3 separate regions of the Homo sapiens genome follow, and regions 1 and 3 are each linked to region 2. Evidence: fine-mapped expression QTL. A gene starts in region 2. Each other region holds a variant in brackets. All regions are shown on one strand. Distances are between the middles of the regions.

Region 1 (5,219 bases), 26 kb after region 2:
GTGTCTTCTTCTCTGCAGTGTGTGACCCCTGACCCTTGACAGATGGCATCGGGGAAGGAGTGGCTCTGAGGTGGTCACCTGGCCCCAGGGCCCCCTGGGCTGTCACACCCATGGGCTGACCAGAGCACCAGCTGCAGCTCTGCATGGGCGGGTAGGGGTGGGGTAGGCACCTCACCTTGATACACCCAGGGGCAGCCTCAGCTCCTGGACATGAGGGGCCGCCCCAGGTACCCACATACCCCAAGGAGGACTAGGATGGGACGTGTGGGCAGCAGGTGACCTTATGACCTCTCTGGTCTTGGAAACAAGGCTCCTACAGCCAGTCCTGGGTAATGTGAGCTGGGGGACAGAGGGGAGCCGGGACGACGATGCCTGTCCACTGGTGGGGCAGCATGTACTTGGGTGGACAGAGGGCACTGCCTGGGGTCCTGGCTTCCCTCGGTGCCCCTCTCTGCTGGGGGAGGCCCTGCGTGCTCACGGAGTGTTGAAAGTGGGCTACCAGGTCAAGGCCTTGTGTTCCCCCTCAGACTGGGACCCCTGAGTGTCCACACAGGCCTCTCAGGAGGACACGCTGTGCTGGCTTTTCCTGGGCTGCCTTGGCCCTGGGAAGGGTGTCCTAGCTTGGCTGTGAGCCCTACCCTGCCTGTCCAGCACCTGAGGGATACAGGGGAGAGCTTGGCTGTGTGTGTCACTCCTGGGTGGCACCATGCTGGCCCTTCACAGAGAGCATTGCTGTGGGCTGCCCCTTCCAGAGCTGAACTCAGCAGCCTGGCCAGGGAGACACCACTGCAATTATCCCCTCCCTCCTTCTGAGGACTCAACCTCTGTTAATACAGCCCGAGATGGTGGCTGCAATTTGGGGGACCTTGGCCGGGTTCTCCTCTGCAGAGGGAGCTCCTTGGCAGAGGTGCTGCTTGGCGGACCACTGCACACCCCCCTCCCAGGCTGCACAGCCGAGCAGTGGGCCCAGAGCTTGCGATGAATGATCTTGTGAGGCTGGCTTCTCAGAGCAGGGGGGGCACCTCTGCAGGCCTGCCAGGAGCTGCAGGGAAGAGCTCCTGTTGGTGTCCTTGGCCAACCACAGGCCAGGCTGTGAGCGCCCCACCCCACCACCAGCTTCAGCCTCTGCGAGTAAACGCACCCTAGGAGCTTGTGCTCCTTCAGGGCGCGTGGCTGGGCCTCGGGGACTCCAGCAGGGAAGGCTGGCTGCCTGAAGGAAGAGAGGCCGGGGGAAGCAGCACTTGGACCCAGGGTCCAGGAGCCCAGAGAGGGAAGCCGAGAGACAGAGAGAGAGGAGGGGAGGCTGGATGTGCCCTCTGGAAGTGACTCCTCCCCATAGAGCAAGGCAGCAAGGCCTCCCTGGGGCGGGGGCTTGTCCAGAGGCCAGGGGAAGGCCTGCCACCCCCATCCTGCCCCCAAACTCCTGCGGGCAGGGCTGGGTGCCTGGGCTGGTGATTAAAGCCCCCTGCTCACTGGCTTTCCCCAGCTCACTGGAGGCCACTCCTCCCTGCCTTTCCCAGAATGGGCTCAACTCCATCACTGGGGTCTGTCTCCACCTCTGCCCCAGCCTGGTGGCTCTTCCTTCCCCCATCATCCTGGCAGGTTGCTCGTGGCCCCACAGAGCACTGGCAACAGCACAGCCAGCACCTTCAGAGCTGATGCCCCTGGCAGACCCCAGCAGGCTTGGCCACGGCCCCAGCCCCGGGGCCACCCGTCCCGCACAGCCTCCTGGTCTCCGCTCACTCAGCTGGCCGGTGGCCACCTGCTCCTCCAGGGCTGGAAGCTTCCACCTCCCTGGCTCTCAGGCCCACTGCCTCATGGTCACCCCAGGGTCCCCTGAACGGGAACAGCTGTGGTGGTGTGTGGGTGGGCAGTGGGGGAGACTGAGGCTGGAGGGTTTTGGGGGAGAGTGTGGGCCTGCTCGCACCCCAGGATCCCCACTCGGTGTCAGCGAAGACCCATCACCCGGTCCCTGCCCTTGGAGCTCAGGTGCCCCTGGAGGGCGGAGACGGACCTCAGTCTTGGCCCACAGCAGCCGCGTCCTCTTTGTTTTGCTCTGGTCTTCTTGTTGGAGTTTTTGCCCACACGCCTGGCTCCAGGCTGCCCTGGAATTAGGAGGATGAGCAGGCTGGGGCCAGATGAGGAGACACAGCCACGTGCTCAGCTTCTCAGCCGCGTGTCCCTAGGCGGCCACAGCCCAGCTGCTTCTCCCTTGGTCCCCCACCTGGGTAGGCAGCGGCCTGCAGGGCCGTCCACTGGGGGTGGCACACCAAGCCCAGGAGCCTCACCAGGAGGGCCAGGCAAGGGGGCACTGGCACCACCCAGAAGAGGCCCCAGGTGTGCCTGAGGGCATTCAGGACAGAGGCCAGCCCCACAGCACGGCAGGCGAGCGTCTTTTCTGGAAGTGAGTGTCCAGGCTCCACTGGGGGCCCAGGTTCATGTCTTATTTCCAGTGTGAATGCTGAGGCTCAGCGTGGCGGGTTTGAGATTGCGTCCACAATCCCAGCAGGCCCCTGCCTCCAGCTGCACTGCCTCCAAGTGACGGCCCCCACTCCCTTACCCCTCCCTCCCCGGCTGACCCCTGCTGCCACCTGGCTGCAGCTAGCATCTGAAAATCGGAGTCTCCTTTCAGTTGGGACAGGTGGGGTGGGTCTAGCTGGGAGGTGGTGGGTCTAGCTGGGAGGTGGTGGGGCCAGGCCTGCCTCAGGGACCACGCCCAGCCCGCCCCCATGCCAGGGCTTCTTAGGGCTGGTGGAGTGATCGACTACAGGGGTGTGGGGTCGGGGTACCAAGGCCAGCTGACCCAGTAGCTGCTCTGAGCCTTCAGTGGGCCTGGTGTCCATCAGGAGGACAGGTGGACAGGGCCGGGGACGGGCTGGCCTGGCCGGGCCCACAGGCACAGGACTTGGCTGAGGCAGCCCGGAGAACACGCAGGCATGGCTCGATGCTGCGTCCTCAGCAGTGCAGGCCACTTCCTGTGCCCCTCTTGAGGTTCAACCACTCCACAGCTGCCTCTGATAAATGTCTCCCCAGAGGGAGGCCTGGCCTCCCCCTCAGCTCCACAGCTATCTCCAAAGTGCAAAGGGGATTTGGGGCTTCAGCTGTGCTCCTTTGAGGGGATCCCAGGCGCAGCCTGGCCCACGAGACCTTAGATGGGCCGTTTCCCCTCTTGGGGTCCCAGTGTGTTTGTGTGTGATGAGGGTGTCACTT[T/C]GTCACCCAGGCTGAGTGCAGTGGCATGACCATGGCTCATAGCAGCCTCGACCTCCCAGGCTCAAGCAATCCTCCCACCTCAGCCTCCTGAGTAACTGGGACCACAGGCATGTGCCACCACAACCGGCTGTTTTTATGTTTGTAGAGACAGGGTCTCGCTATGTTGCCCAGGCTGATCTCGATCTCCTAGGCTCAAGCGATCCACCCGCCTCAGGCTCCCAAAGTGTTGGGATTACAGGCTTGTAATCCCAGGTGCAGTACACCCGGCCCACTGCATCTTTAAAATGTGATGATGACCCCTGCTCCCCTGCTCCCCGCACCTTGCGAGCATTCCGAGAATCATATCAGATGGGACAGAACATCCAGGAGGACCTGGGGGCTTTAAGGTCCATCAGTGCAGCAGATGTCCTGGGAAAGCGCATGTCCCAAGCCCCCCAGGGCCCAGCTGCCACAGCTGAAGTGCATGCCACGGCTCTCTGAAGAGGCTGCTGCTCCTGCAGGGGTGGTCAGGCTGCCCACATTAGCACTAGGCATTCGGTCCACCCAGACACAGCAGCCTGGTCTCTTATGCTGCTGTCTGCTCTCAGGGAGTGCATCTGTTGCTGTGGTGGTCTCCCTGGGGTGACTCAGGAGGCCTGCGTGGTTTCCTCACAGCAGGATCTTCATGGTCACTTGCATTGACCTTAGCAAGTTTCTGGAATGCAAACGTATGGTGTTGACATGATGGCTGCTGTCCTTTAACTGATGGCTGCTGTCCTTCCTTGGGACCCACTGACCTCTCCATCCCATGTGCGAAGAGCCAAGCATTTGGGCTTATGTTCCTTTATCCTTGTGATTTTAGAGCATTTCCCCTCCACAGTCTTGAACGAGAATCTATCTGGTTTAGGCAGAAGCATCTGTGCCGGATGTTACTGCTGAAGGCTGGCTGCGGAGTTCCTGCTTTTCTGGCCCCTGCCAATTGATGGAGCACCCCAGTGGCCAGAGCCTCCTCTCTGCCCCCATGCAGCGCGGCCCAGCCCTGTCACTCTGGGCTGTGGGTGAGGAAGCCACATAGGCGTGGAGGGGGCTGGGTCTGGGCTCACACTCACCTCTGCAGGCGCCTTCCCCAGGGCCTCCTGTGGGCCTGGGACATCATCTCCCTGACTCAGAGCAAGTCCTGATTTACAAACAGGGCCTGAGAGATGAAGGTGGCCAGCTGAGGCCACACAACCACTGGAGTCATGGCTGGGCCCTTTTCCCCAGCTCTGCGGTCCCCAGGCCTCTGCAGGAGGACAGAGGAGGAATTGGGCACAGGAAGGATGCGGAATGAGTCCAGGACTCAGCTGGATTCCTTCTCAGAGCTTCAGCCTTTCCCAGAGCTGAGGCAGTGTCTGCCCCTGGCCAAGGTTCAGCTAAGTGTGGCCCCAGCTGATGGCTCTATGTGGCCTGAGGAGGCGCCAGTGACCTTTCTTTACAAGAATCCCTTTATCCTAGCCTGAAGGCGAGCGTCTGGGAGGCAGGGGGTAAGGAGCACTTTGGAGGCTGGATTACTGCTGGGAAGGCAGCTGGCGGAGGCAGGGGGGCCATGTGCACTGGCTCTGGGTGGGGCCCCCATTGGGCCTGGGCCCCATGCTGCCAAACAGCTGGCCTTGGCGTGGGGTCAGAGAGCATGGCCCCTCCCCAGGTGTCCAGAGGCAAGCATCCTCAGGGACACAGGGCTGGCCAGGCAGAGGCAGAACCTGACCTGTCCCTCCCCATCTGCTCTGGGCTGGCACCACATGGGACCTCTTGTCTCCCAGTGGTGGAAGGGGTCTTTCATGCCCCACATGAGAAATGGAAGGAAGAGCCTGCTCCAGCCTATGCAGTGGGGGTTGGGGAGGGGTGGTCAGCCCAGAGTCAGAGCTCACTCCCTTCCTGTGCCCTCGCCTCTGTCCCCTCCGCAACTCCTAGGTGGCCCAGGAAACTCAGCAGGGCAGGAGGAAGTGGGAGCCATGAGGAGGGGACCAGGAGGTGCCTGTGGTTAACAGGAA
Region 2 (5,219 bases):
GCACCTGGCTCTGCCCATCTCTGAGACCTCTGACGCCTTCATTTCCTGCGTTGGCCACCAGGCACAGATGCTGTGTCCATCTGACAGGAGAGGAAGCGGGGTCCCAGGAGGAACAAGCCACTGCCTGGTGACAGAGCTTCTTTCTGGCAGCAGCAGGATTCGGACCTACCTCTTGCTGGGGGCAACCTCTTCGGCTCACTGCCTCTCCAAAACCAGGCAAGAGGCTGGAAATGGGGCTTTCTGGAAAAATGCAGAGCCTGCTGGGAAGTGGGGCAGACAACTGACACCTGTCACTGAGCCTGGCAGGTGGCGTGTTCTTCATTTCTTGCATGGCCATCTGGCTGTCAGACACTACCCAGTGAGAGGCTCAACCCTCGTCCTGCTCCACCCCAGCCCCACCCTGCTGTCATCTATGGCCCCTTCCCCCACCCTCAGGTGCCTCTTTGACTTTTGACCTCTGCCCTCAGCAGTGTCATTTCATGAAACCCAGGCCCTGGACAGCCAGCATCAAGCAACTGGCAACCTTCCCTACTGCCGCCCCTGAGACCTCCGCCCTAGGGATAGGGGCTTTGTTTTCTTCCCTAATTCCCTTTGGATTGGCTCCAGCAACCAGCAAGTTACCAGGCAGCAGCACCTCAGCTTTGGGCGGAGTCTTCAAAGAGCAGACCCAGCAGTTGTATGTGGATCCCAGCTGCACAGACCCTCTCCTGCAGAGGCAGAGGCCGCCTGCCACAGGCCACGCGGAGCAGGGTCCCACCATGGCCCTGAGCATCTTGACTGAGCAGTTCTGCATCCCAAGGCCTCACAAGGTGACTATGGAATGGCAATGCTAGCCCTGGGGGTAAGCTTAGGGCAAGTCCGATCAGCCCACTCGCCTCCGTAAGCCGTGGGTTCCTGTGATCCGCACACAAGCGGCTGGTGCTGCTATCCCCAGGAGGATACCCACCAACTTGTCTAACGGGGTGGGCAAGGCCAGGGCTGAGACGGGAAGGGGTCTGGCTTGTTGTGGGCAGAGCACCTGCATGCTGTGCCGTTCCCCCTTCAGGTGCTGGAAGGAGCCTTCCTGGGCCGCTCGCCCTCCGCAGCCCTGCTGGGAGGTCTTGCAGACGCCCATGATAGCCAGGCTTGCGGCCTCCCGAATGCAACTGCAGCGTGAAACCGTAGAAACACACGTGTCAGTGGCAGTTCTGCCTGGGGAGGAGCCCAGGGCTCTCTGCGGAGGGTCAGTTCTGTCCCTGTTAAGGTTCTGTGTGGAAAAGACTCCACGCCCTCTTGGGGTCTACCTACATCTGGGGATGCCCGAGCCCAGCTCCCAGTTTTTCTGGTCATTTGGGGACATACCATAGGAAGGACCTGCAGTGCACCTCAGGCTTGGACACTAGGGATGCAAACGCCCTGGGGCCAGCCCTGGGCCCACACCCAATTTAGGGTCTACAGGCAGGGAGCCAGGGGCCAGGGGAGGACTTCTCAGCTCCCAAGGGGATGCTGTTTAGGGGAATTAGAATGTCTTTTATATACAAGAGAACTGAGGGGTCTAAAAAGGTCTCTGGGGGGTAGAAGAAGGTGAGGAGAAAACACAGGAAGAAATGCACATGAGGGGAGGTTCTTGTCAAAAGGGTCCTGAGAAAGACGTACAGTTAGAGTGTGACTGAGGGTCCTTCTTAGCACATAAGGGGCAGGGACAACGGGCTCAGATGTCTGGGGCTCCTCTTGTGTTCTGATGGCTCCTGAGACGGGGAGAAACGGCGACAGTTTCCTGGGTTCAGGAAGGGAGAGGAGGCGCCTCGCACCCTGGCTAGGGTGGGCTGGGGGCCTGCACCCCTAAGTTGGAGAACCCCACGAAGCTGACCCCACTCACCGCTGCCCACCCCGCCAAGCCTCCTGGCCATTTTCAGCGGAGTGTCCCGACCTCTGGCCGCCCGGGTGGGTGTGAGCCCCGGAGCGCGCGCGGGGGGTTGGGGGATGAGGAGAAGCGGCAGCCGGTGGGGGGCAGCCCCTGGGCGCCCGCTCCGCGCGGCGATTCGGCCCGGGTTTTGCGGCCGCCGCGCCTCCTCCTCCCGCCTCCGGGCTCCCTGGGCCTCCTCCCTCCGCCGCGCCCTCGCTCCGCCTCGCGCGGGGGGACCATCTGCTGGCATTTCCTGCAGCCAGGCCCGCGCCGCCAGTGGAGCCCCCGCGCGCCCGGCCGGCCCGGAGCACCGAGCTCGCGGCACGGTAGGAGGTAGGAGCGCGGCGGCCCGGGGGGCGGCAGGGCGGCGGGGGGATGGCGGGCTGGGAAGGATCCGGAGGGCCCCGCCGGGCAGGGCCGGAGCGAACCGAGGGCCGCGGGGGGCCGGCCGAAGGGATCCAGGAGCTCGCGCCGCAGCCCCGCGGACCCTGGCAGTAGCCAGTGCGGGGAACCACGCCGCGGGGCCGGTCGCGCGCTGGGGAGCTGGGGAGCGCGGGAGCCTGGGGGCGCCCCGGGCCAGGACGGGTCGGCGCCTGGCGGGTTGGGGCGGGTGGGGCCCGCGAGTGGGAAGCGGCGCGCCCAGCTCGGCTCCCCACTTGGTGGGGCTTAAAGGAGCCGGGACCGCCAGGGAAGGTGGCTGGGTCTGACCACCACAAACCCTGGCCAATCAGGGGGTCTGTCCCCCCAGCTCGGCCGACGCGGGCTCCAAGGAGCCAGGTCTTGATGGGTCTGCAGGGGGTCTGGGATCTGAGTCTGGCGTCCCAGCTGCGGGCTTGGGAGGACTGCTGTGTCTGAGTCCGCAGAGTCAGGGGGCTGCCTGGATTACAGGCTAGGGAAGGACCTTGCCCACAGCCCCCATCTCTGGGGCACTGACCCCCTGAAGATGTGGAGCCTTAGGGATTGTTGAGGTGCCTGAGTCCTCAAGAGGGTCTTGTGCACTTGAAGATTCCTCCCGGGGAGCGGGGTGCAGGAGGGTGGGGCAGGCAGGAAGGAGGCTGGAGTCTGCAGCCCCCCGGGCAACAGGCCCGTCCTGGGCTTCCCAGGCACCGCCCCCAACCCCCACCCAGACCGCTGGGCTGCCTCCTGTCAGAAGCCAACTGGAGTTAGGGTTTGGGGTGACTCCTGGGGGTATGGAGGGGTCACAGGGTGGGCTTACCTGCCCCTCCCTCGTCCCTGGGCTGAGCCCAGCCCCTCCCTCATCCTTGGGCTGAGCGGGTCTGCCCCGCCGAAGCGGCTGGGTGGATTTCCTCTCTTGCCGTTTCGCAACTTGCTCCCCTCTGTGTGTCTGCCCCAGTCTCTTCAAGGTGCCTTTTACAGGAAGACTTCTGTAAGGGTCCCACCCCACCTGATACAGCCTCCCAAAGCCTGGAGAAGTGGGCCAGCCTTTGGGATCCTAGATAGATGCTCTTGGGTCTGCCTGCACCAGGGCTGATCCAGATCCCAGACTGAACAGAAACTCTGCTCCCCAACCCCAGGAGTAAGGCCCCTCTGCACGTTTTTATCCCACCTCCTTGGTACACAGGGCCTTGCTGTTCCTTGAACCTGCCAGGTGAGTGGGGGCTTTGCAGGCATCGGGCAGGTTTGTGGCAACCTGGGGTGGCATCATGTGCCCAGCTGCTCCCTTCTGGTCTCAGGCTCCAGAACTGCAGATCCTATTGTCTGCCTGCACGCGTGTGGGGCTGGCCTGGGGTGCCAGGAGGCAGGCACCGCGTGTGTCTGTCTTGCCAGGCTGTGTTTAAGAAAGGTGACACAGCAGATAGGCCGGATGAGGAGCCTCTGACCTGCAGTCCTGGGCCTGGTCTCAGAGAGGCTGCCCTGCAGATGTCGAACCCCGGGCAGCCATCCTGCATGTCCAGTGGAGGCTCCTTTCTGGGTCCAGATTGGGCCATGAATAGGCCATGTTCTTCAAAGGACTGCTTTCAGCTCTTTACAGAATACCAACGCAAGACCGCCCCCCCCACCCAACCCCTACCCAGGATTGTATTTACTATGCTGAGAATGCCTGGTATCAGTTTCTCTCCTGAGATCCTGGCCTCACTCTGAGCGCTGATAGTAATCTGACATGTAACGCTTGGGGGAGGGAGAAACACTCTGTGACAAGCCGGCGGGTGGAAGGGCTGTGTGTGTCTCTGCCAGCTGTGTTTTGGGGACTGGTGCTCTCTGCTGATTCTGTGGTTAAGCCTGCACACGTTTGCACACATACAGGCACAGTGTGCAGGTGGAAAACTTACCCAAGATGACAGAAGGTGCCCCCCGCCCCCATTCCCATTTATTGTTCAAGGGACAGGTGAATCTGAGCCTGTGACCGCAGCTGAGAAATGTTGTGGACCCAGCTCAGGGTTCTCCCGGAGAGGCCTGGGGAGCTGGAAGCTCTGACCTCCGGGACAGGGGGTTGTAGAGGGGCCGAGGCCCAGGGTTGCACAGTGCCAAAAGGATCCCGGTCATTTTGACAGGAAGGGAGCTGTCGGGGAGGGAGCCGTTAGGTGCAGCTCCCCTTGTGGAGTCCAAGGGCCAGGTGGGTAGAAGTGCCCACCACTTGCAGGGTTGGCAGGGGAGCCCAGGGAGTGCACCAGTGTGCTGGGGGGTAGATGTTGGGGGGTACAAGTGAGGGCCACTGGCCTCCCGACAGGGACAGGCATGCTGCCCTGGATGTCCTCATGCTGCTTGTGACCGGCACAAAGGAAAAGAATATTGTTCTCGATGCCAGCTTTGCTTGATGACTTACCGAGCCTGCAGCTTGAGGAGGCAACTGACAGCCTGAGGATGGGGCTCCTGGGCTGGTCAAGATTTTTAAAGGTTTTGGGGCCTTGGTGGCTGGGTCTTGGCCACGGCTGGGTAACCTTTCCCGTGGAGATGTATGGGCAGATAGTGAAGCTGCTCCGGAGAGTGGTAGGGTTGGCGGTCGAGTACAAAGGACTTGGACTAAGGACCGCGTTGTTCTCTTAGCATCACAGTTGTTCTGAGCCAGGGCCTCTGGGATCATGTCCACGAGGATGTGAGATTGCCTTGTGCTGGCATCTACACTAAGCGGAGTGGGCACCAGCTGTGTCCTCAGGACCAGGGCTTGAGGTGGGAGATGGGGAGGGGGTGGGACATGAGCCTTCTTGGCTGGCTTAGAGGGATCCAGAATTCCTAGAGGGCCTTTGTTGCAAATCTCAGAGCCACCCAGGCTGAGAGCAAATGCTTTGCTCGGCCTCCCAGCCCACCTCACATCCGGCTACTCCCTCCAGGGCTGGCCTCCACTCCCCTCCTGGCCCTACCAGCTCTTGCCTGG
Region 3 (5,219 bases), 52 kb after region 2:
AACTTATATGAGCTGAAAATGAGTTGAAGGGAAGTGTTACTATTTTGTTCCTTTTAAGAGGGAAGAGAAAACTGAAACTGGCAAGATGCAATGAAAGTTGAACTTTGGGTTAAAATTAAAAAATTAAAATATCTTATAATTGATTAAGAGTAAATCAACCTCTTAAGAAAATGTCGGCCAGGTGCGGTGGCTCATGCCTGTAATCCCAGCACTTTTGGGAGGCCGAGGCAGGAGGATCACGAAGTCAGGAGATCAAGACCATCCTGGCTAACATGGTGAAACCCCATCTCTACTAAAAATACAAAAAAAAATTAGCCAGGCGTGGTGGCGGGCGCCTGTAGTCCCAGCTACTCAGGAGGCTGGGGCAGGAGAATGGCGTGAACCCAGGAGGTGGAGCTTGCAGTGAGCCAAGATCACGCCACTGCACTCCAGCCTGGGCAACAGAGCGAGACTCTGTCTAAAAAAAAAAAAAAAAAAAAAAAAAATCATTGTTCTAACCAATTCTTTAGTCTATAACTGTTTTTTTACATCAAACCCAATCTCTAGAAAGACCATTATAATTTCCCTTTAGTCATAGACAACTTGATCATATAAAAGGGTTTTTTTTTAATAGATCCTCTTATTGTGACTTCCATAGACCATTCATGCCACGCTTGGACTTTCTGGTTTGTCCTGAACATCCCTCTTTCTTAAACAACCAGTCATTTTACTCTAGGACTAAATTTACCATACAAGATTCTTTCTCATATGAAATTATTTCTCTTTAAGCTTTCTTACTCTCCACCAAAAAACACTTTTTTATAACTTTCTTTACATCTCTTTTACTCTTTTATTTCCTGGTTCCTTTTACCTTGTTTTATACATGATCTTTAAATAAGCTTTGAATTAGGCAAAAATTGTTCACCTTTTTCAAAAGGACATGCTTTCTTTTAGAAAGCATATTTTCCTACAAATATATTTTTATTGGAAAATATCCAAATAGTGAAATATCTTATTTAATCTAACTTTAAATTCTAAATTATGATGAATTTGTCTACAAGTATTTGTCCTATTACATTTACCTAATTATTTTAATCATTTACCTAGATTATTTATAAAAACTGCAATTGTCATTATTTAAATTATGGAAACACCATTGCAAAATTATAACTGAGACAGTGAAAGAGATTTGACCTAACTGACTCCATCTTGTTTCTAACCTTCAAGCTATCCTTGTTCATTCCTGGGCATAGGTCAAACTAACTTTGGGAGGAACTTAGTTTATAGTTTACCTGAAACAAAGACTATAACAGTCTTTCTCAAAATGAACCTTACTGCCTGTGGACTAGACTACCTAAAGCCACCAGATTAGAAGTTATGGTAATCTTACTAAATTTAAGATGTAGCTATTTTTATTAAACCAATATAAATTTTTTTTTTTTTGAGACGGAGTCTTGCTCTAGTCTCCCAGGCTGGAGTGCAGTGGTGCGATCTTGGCTCACTGTTACCTCTGCCTCCCAGGTCAAGCAATTCTCCTGCCTCAGCCTCACGAGTAGCTGGGATTACAGGTGCCTGCCAACACACCTGGCTAATTTTTGTATTTTTAGTAGAGATGGGGTTTCACTATGTTGGCCAGACTGGTCTTGAACTCCTGACTTTGTGATCCACCCACCTCAGCCTCCCAAAGTGCTGAGATTACAGGCATTATTAAAGATTACACAAGCAAAGATCATTCTGTCTTGGGCTGGGTTTATAGTTTCGTAACTCCTATGCCAAATTTTGACACCTCATGGTATTTGGCAGGGATAAGTATGAAATTGCTTGATTAATAAATGCAAACAAAAATATATGCTGGCAATTCTTAAGACATTTCTAATATTACTTTACCAATAATTTTAAAGCTAGCTTATTTATTAAAGATTTTATTTAAGTTACATAAACTTGAAAAAGCATTTGACTTGTCTTTTCTTTTTTCCTGATCAAGTATTTGATTCAAGTGCATTTACTTTCTTAAGCCAATCAATTAGAGCCCTTTTATATATTTTCAGTAGTGAAACATTGTGTACACGACACATAAATACATAGACATATTAGGCATGGCAATAGAAGTACATCTCATAGGTTTATAAAAATTTTTTTTTCCTGTCTTAGACTTTCAGATTCTTGATAACCTGTTTCACAACCCTAGGCAATTGTCAGCTAAATAGCCTTAAATTTGCATATTAAGGGAAACAACTCAGGTGAAAATCAAATAGCAAAATTTGCATAAGGTACAGAGAGAAAAAGTCTGGTGGTGCTAGAGGGAGACTAAAGATGGATGCCAAATCAAACAAAATTATAGAAATCTATCATAGGATTGCATAAGGAGACCAATTTTATGTAGTAGGGACTACCTATCATTTAACTGGATCTCTGAGCTCTGGGAAGAGCCCACACTGAATCCTAGGTCTCCAGAAAGGGAGAATTATCATGAGGTTAGACCACGTGATGCTTTTATAGTGCACTTACAAATTTTTTTTAAACAAAGACATTTCTAAGTGTCTAAACCACACTCTTCCTTAAAAGCCCAAGAGTAACCACTGTTGCAATAACTACTTTAGTCAAAAAAAAAAAAAAAAAGAAAAGAAAACACAAAACAGGTTACACAATACAAAAGTAAGCAGTTTAAGAGCTGAGACAAACTTGTCTGTTTACATTCTTGGGGTTTCATAAGAAAAAACAAGTTTCTCCCCCAAGGGGAGTCTGGCACCCTCTCCATTTTCTTTAAGGAACCCCAGGCTACTATAAACTATTTTAGGTCCCCCATGCGGCAGAAGGTGCAAGAGAAAGGAGAGACAGCAGAAGTAAATCAAGAAACAGAATTCAGTCAACTGAGAAGAAAAAACCCTTTTGCTCAAAAAAAGACAAGGTCCTAGGAGAAAAACAAAAACAGAAACATGAAGGTCTCTTAAATACAAACACACACATATGCGCAC[A/G]CACACACATGCACACACACATATGCACACACACATGCACACACACATGCACACACACATACACATGCACACACATGCGCGCACACATACACACACATGCACACACATGCGCGCACACACACACACATGCACACACATGCGCGCACACATATGCACACACACACACACAGCTTGGATGTTAGCTTTTCATTAAACTGACTTTTAACCATTGAGCTTCTTTGAAAAAATCTTTTTAAATCTCATTCCATATTTCAACTAGGACAAATTTCAACGAGGACACAGAAGTACAGTCATTACTCTTTCAGTTTGGCCTAGCTAGTGAAAATGTGGCCTTGTTATATGAATAAAGCCCCTTAGTAGTCAAAATCAAAATCTTTCCTCTTTTTTTTTTCCTTTTGCTGGCCGTTTTTCTCCCCCCATCACGCCACCATTGTGTGTGGGGGTGGGGAGGGGAATTCAGCCACTTCAGAGGCCTTGTTCCCCATAATTTGGAACTTCCTTCAGATTTGATCAAGCCAGATAGAGGTCAATGGGAAAAAGACCAAAACAACAAAAACAGAAACAATCAACAACAAAAAAACAGTTAAGCGAAACAAACAATCGCACAACTTACGTGATCACTGAGTGCTCTAATGGTAAGGAGAAATTAAGACCAGCTGGTTGTTAATCTTAACTTTAGCTAAGACAAACCACAATTCAGTTACTTCCCTAGGGATGGGTCTCAGGCTGAAAACTCAGATCTCCACCATCCTGGGAGCAGGAAAAAAAAAAAATTCATCTTCCCTGTTGGAAGCAAGCTCGAACTCCATAAAGGAGTTACCTGCCTTCCATCGTCATGGAAGCAGGGAAAACTTGCCTTCCTTGTATCGGAAGCAAGTAAAACTCCAAAAAGAGAAGTTGTAAAACAAAATAAACTTTAGATCTCGACCAAATTTTGAGAGATCAGGGATTCTCTGTGGCAGGGGGTGGGGGTGGGGCACGGGGGGAGGTGCTTCCAGGCCTCAGCAAATTGTCTTATTGGTTTGAGCCATAAAGTTAGCTCAAGCTGGTACCAAGCACCAATAGGAGACTTGTGAAAAGTCAGGGGCATCTCCACTCAGAATCCTTCAGTGGTTACCAAAATGTTTGAACCCTGAAAATCTGAGACAGGTCTCAGTTAATTTAGAAAGTTTATTTTGCCAAGGTTGAAGACGCCTACCTGTGACACAGCCTCAGGAGGTCCTGACGATGTGCCCAGGGTGGTCAGAGCACAGTTTGGTTTTAGGGAGACATGAGACATTAACCAACATATGTAAGATGAACATTGGTTTGGTCTGGAAAGGCGGGACAACTTCAAGCGGGGAGGGGCTTCCAGGTCATAGGTAGATAAGAGAAAGATGGTTGCATTTTTTTGAGTTTCTGATGAGCTTCTCCAAAGGAGACAATGAGATATGCATTTATCTCAGTGAGCAGAGGGGTGACTTGGAATAGAATGGGAGGCAGGTTGGCCCTAAGCAGTTCCCAGCTTGGGTTTTTCCCTTTAGCTTAGTGATTTGAGGGGCCCAAGATTTTCCTTTCACACCAGGCACCATTGAAACAACAGGTTCTACTGTTATCATCCACATTAGACAGGTCAGGAAACTGAGGCACAGGCAAACTGCCAGCAAGAAAGTGCTAGAACGAGAATTTCCCTGACTCCCAAATGCATTGCACGCTGTTGCTGTTCCCTGAGTGGCCGCTCAGGCAGCTGTGACTGCGATGATCCTCCACCTGGAGGGATTCCCTCTTGGCCGTTCCTCCCTCTAACCTGAGGTTGGGGCCCTACCCCACCTCGCCCTCCAGTGGCTGCTCTGGGTAAATGCGGTTGCTCCACCTCCTCTAACCCCAGGGTGATGCCTCCCAGAGCAGTGGGGTGAAGGGCTCCCATCCCGCCGGTGGTGCAGACCTAAAGCAGTCTGGCCTTGACCACGGGGCTCCGGTGCCTCTCAGGTTGGAGTCTCGGTGCCACATCACCCCTGGTGGTCAGATGCCACATCCATGCTCCTTCCTGGGCCATCCTGAGTGCCCCACTATGTGCCAGGTCCCATGCAGGCCCGGGGATGGCCAGGGCAGCCCACAGCCTCTGTGCTCCTGGGTGAGGTGGATAACCAACCATCAGATAAGGCAGGTTGGGCTGAGGTGTGAGCTGAGCCCCTGATAGGGTGTGGGCCACCATTCGGGAGGAGAGGTGTCTGCAGCCCCTGTGGGTATCAGGGTGGGCTTCCAGGAAGAGGAGGAAGAGGTCTC

What was found. PIP is the estimated chance that this variant, and not a neighbour inherited with it, causes the effect. A credible set is the group of variants that fine-mapping cannot tell apart.
Region 1: its variant is the best candidate, but not a certain one, in a credible set for the expression of OSBPL5 in whole blood (TOPMed, PIP 0.52).
Region 3: its variant is the best candidate, but not a certain one, in a credible set for the expression of OSBPL5 in whole blood (INTERVAL, PIP 0.84).

The regions. Positions count from the first base shown.
Region 1 is chr11:3,135,782-3,141,000 of GRCh38, reverse strand. All of the region lies in intron 1 of OSBPL5 (oxysterol binding protein like 5), which reads left to right. Among named protein-coding and RNA genes, the nearest start is that of OSBPL5, 27 kb to the left of the region's middle. RefSeq lists enhancers at 4,070-4,677, 4,678-5,219. The variant T/C (reference allele first, on the strand shown) is at 3,211.
Region 2 is chr11:3,162,215-3,167,433 of GRCh38, reverse strand. It overlaps OSBPL5 (oxysterol binding protein like 5), which reads left to right and starts at 2,124. Exons shown (of 22, transcript NM_020896.4): 1 at 2,124-2,218. RefSeq lists enhancers at 930-1,642, 3,386-4,079.
Region 3 is chr11:3,109,858-3,115,076 of GRCh38, reverse strand. The region is part of intron 7 of OSBPL5 (oxysterol binding protein like 5); the gene reads left to right. Among named protein-coding and RNA genes, the nearest start is that of OSBPL5, 53 kb to the left of the region's middle. RefSeq lists a silencer at 4,843-4,902. The variant A/G (reference allele first, on the strand shown) is at 2,955.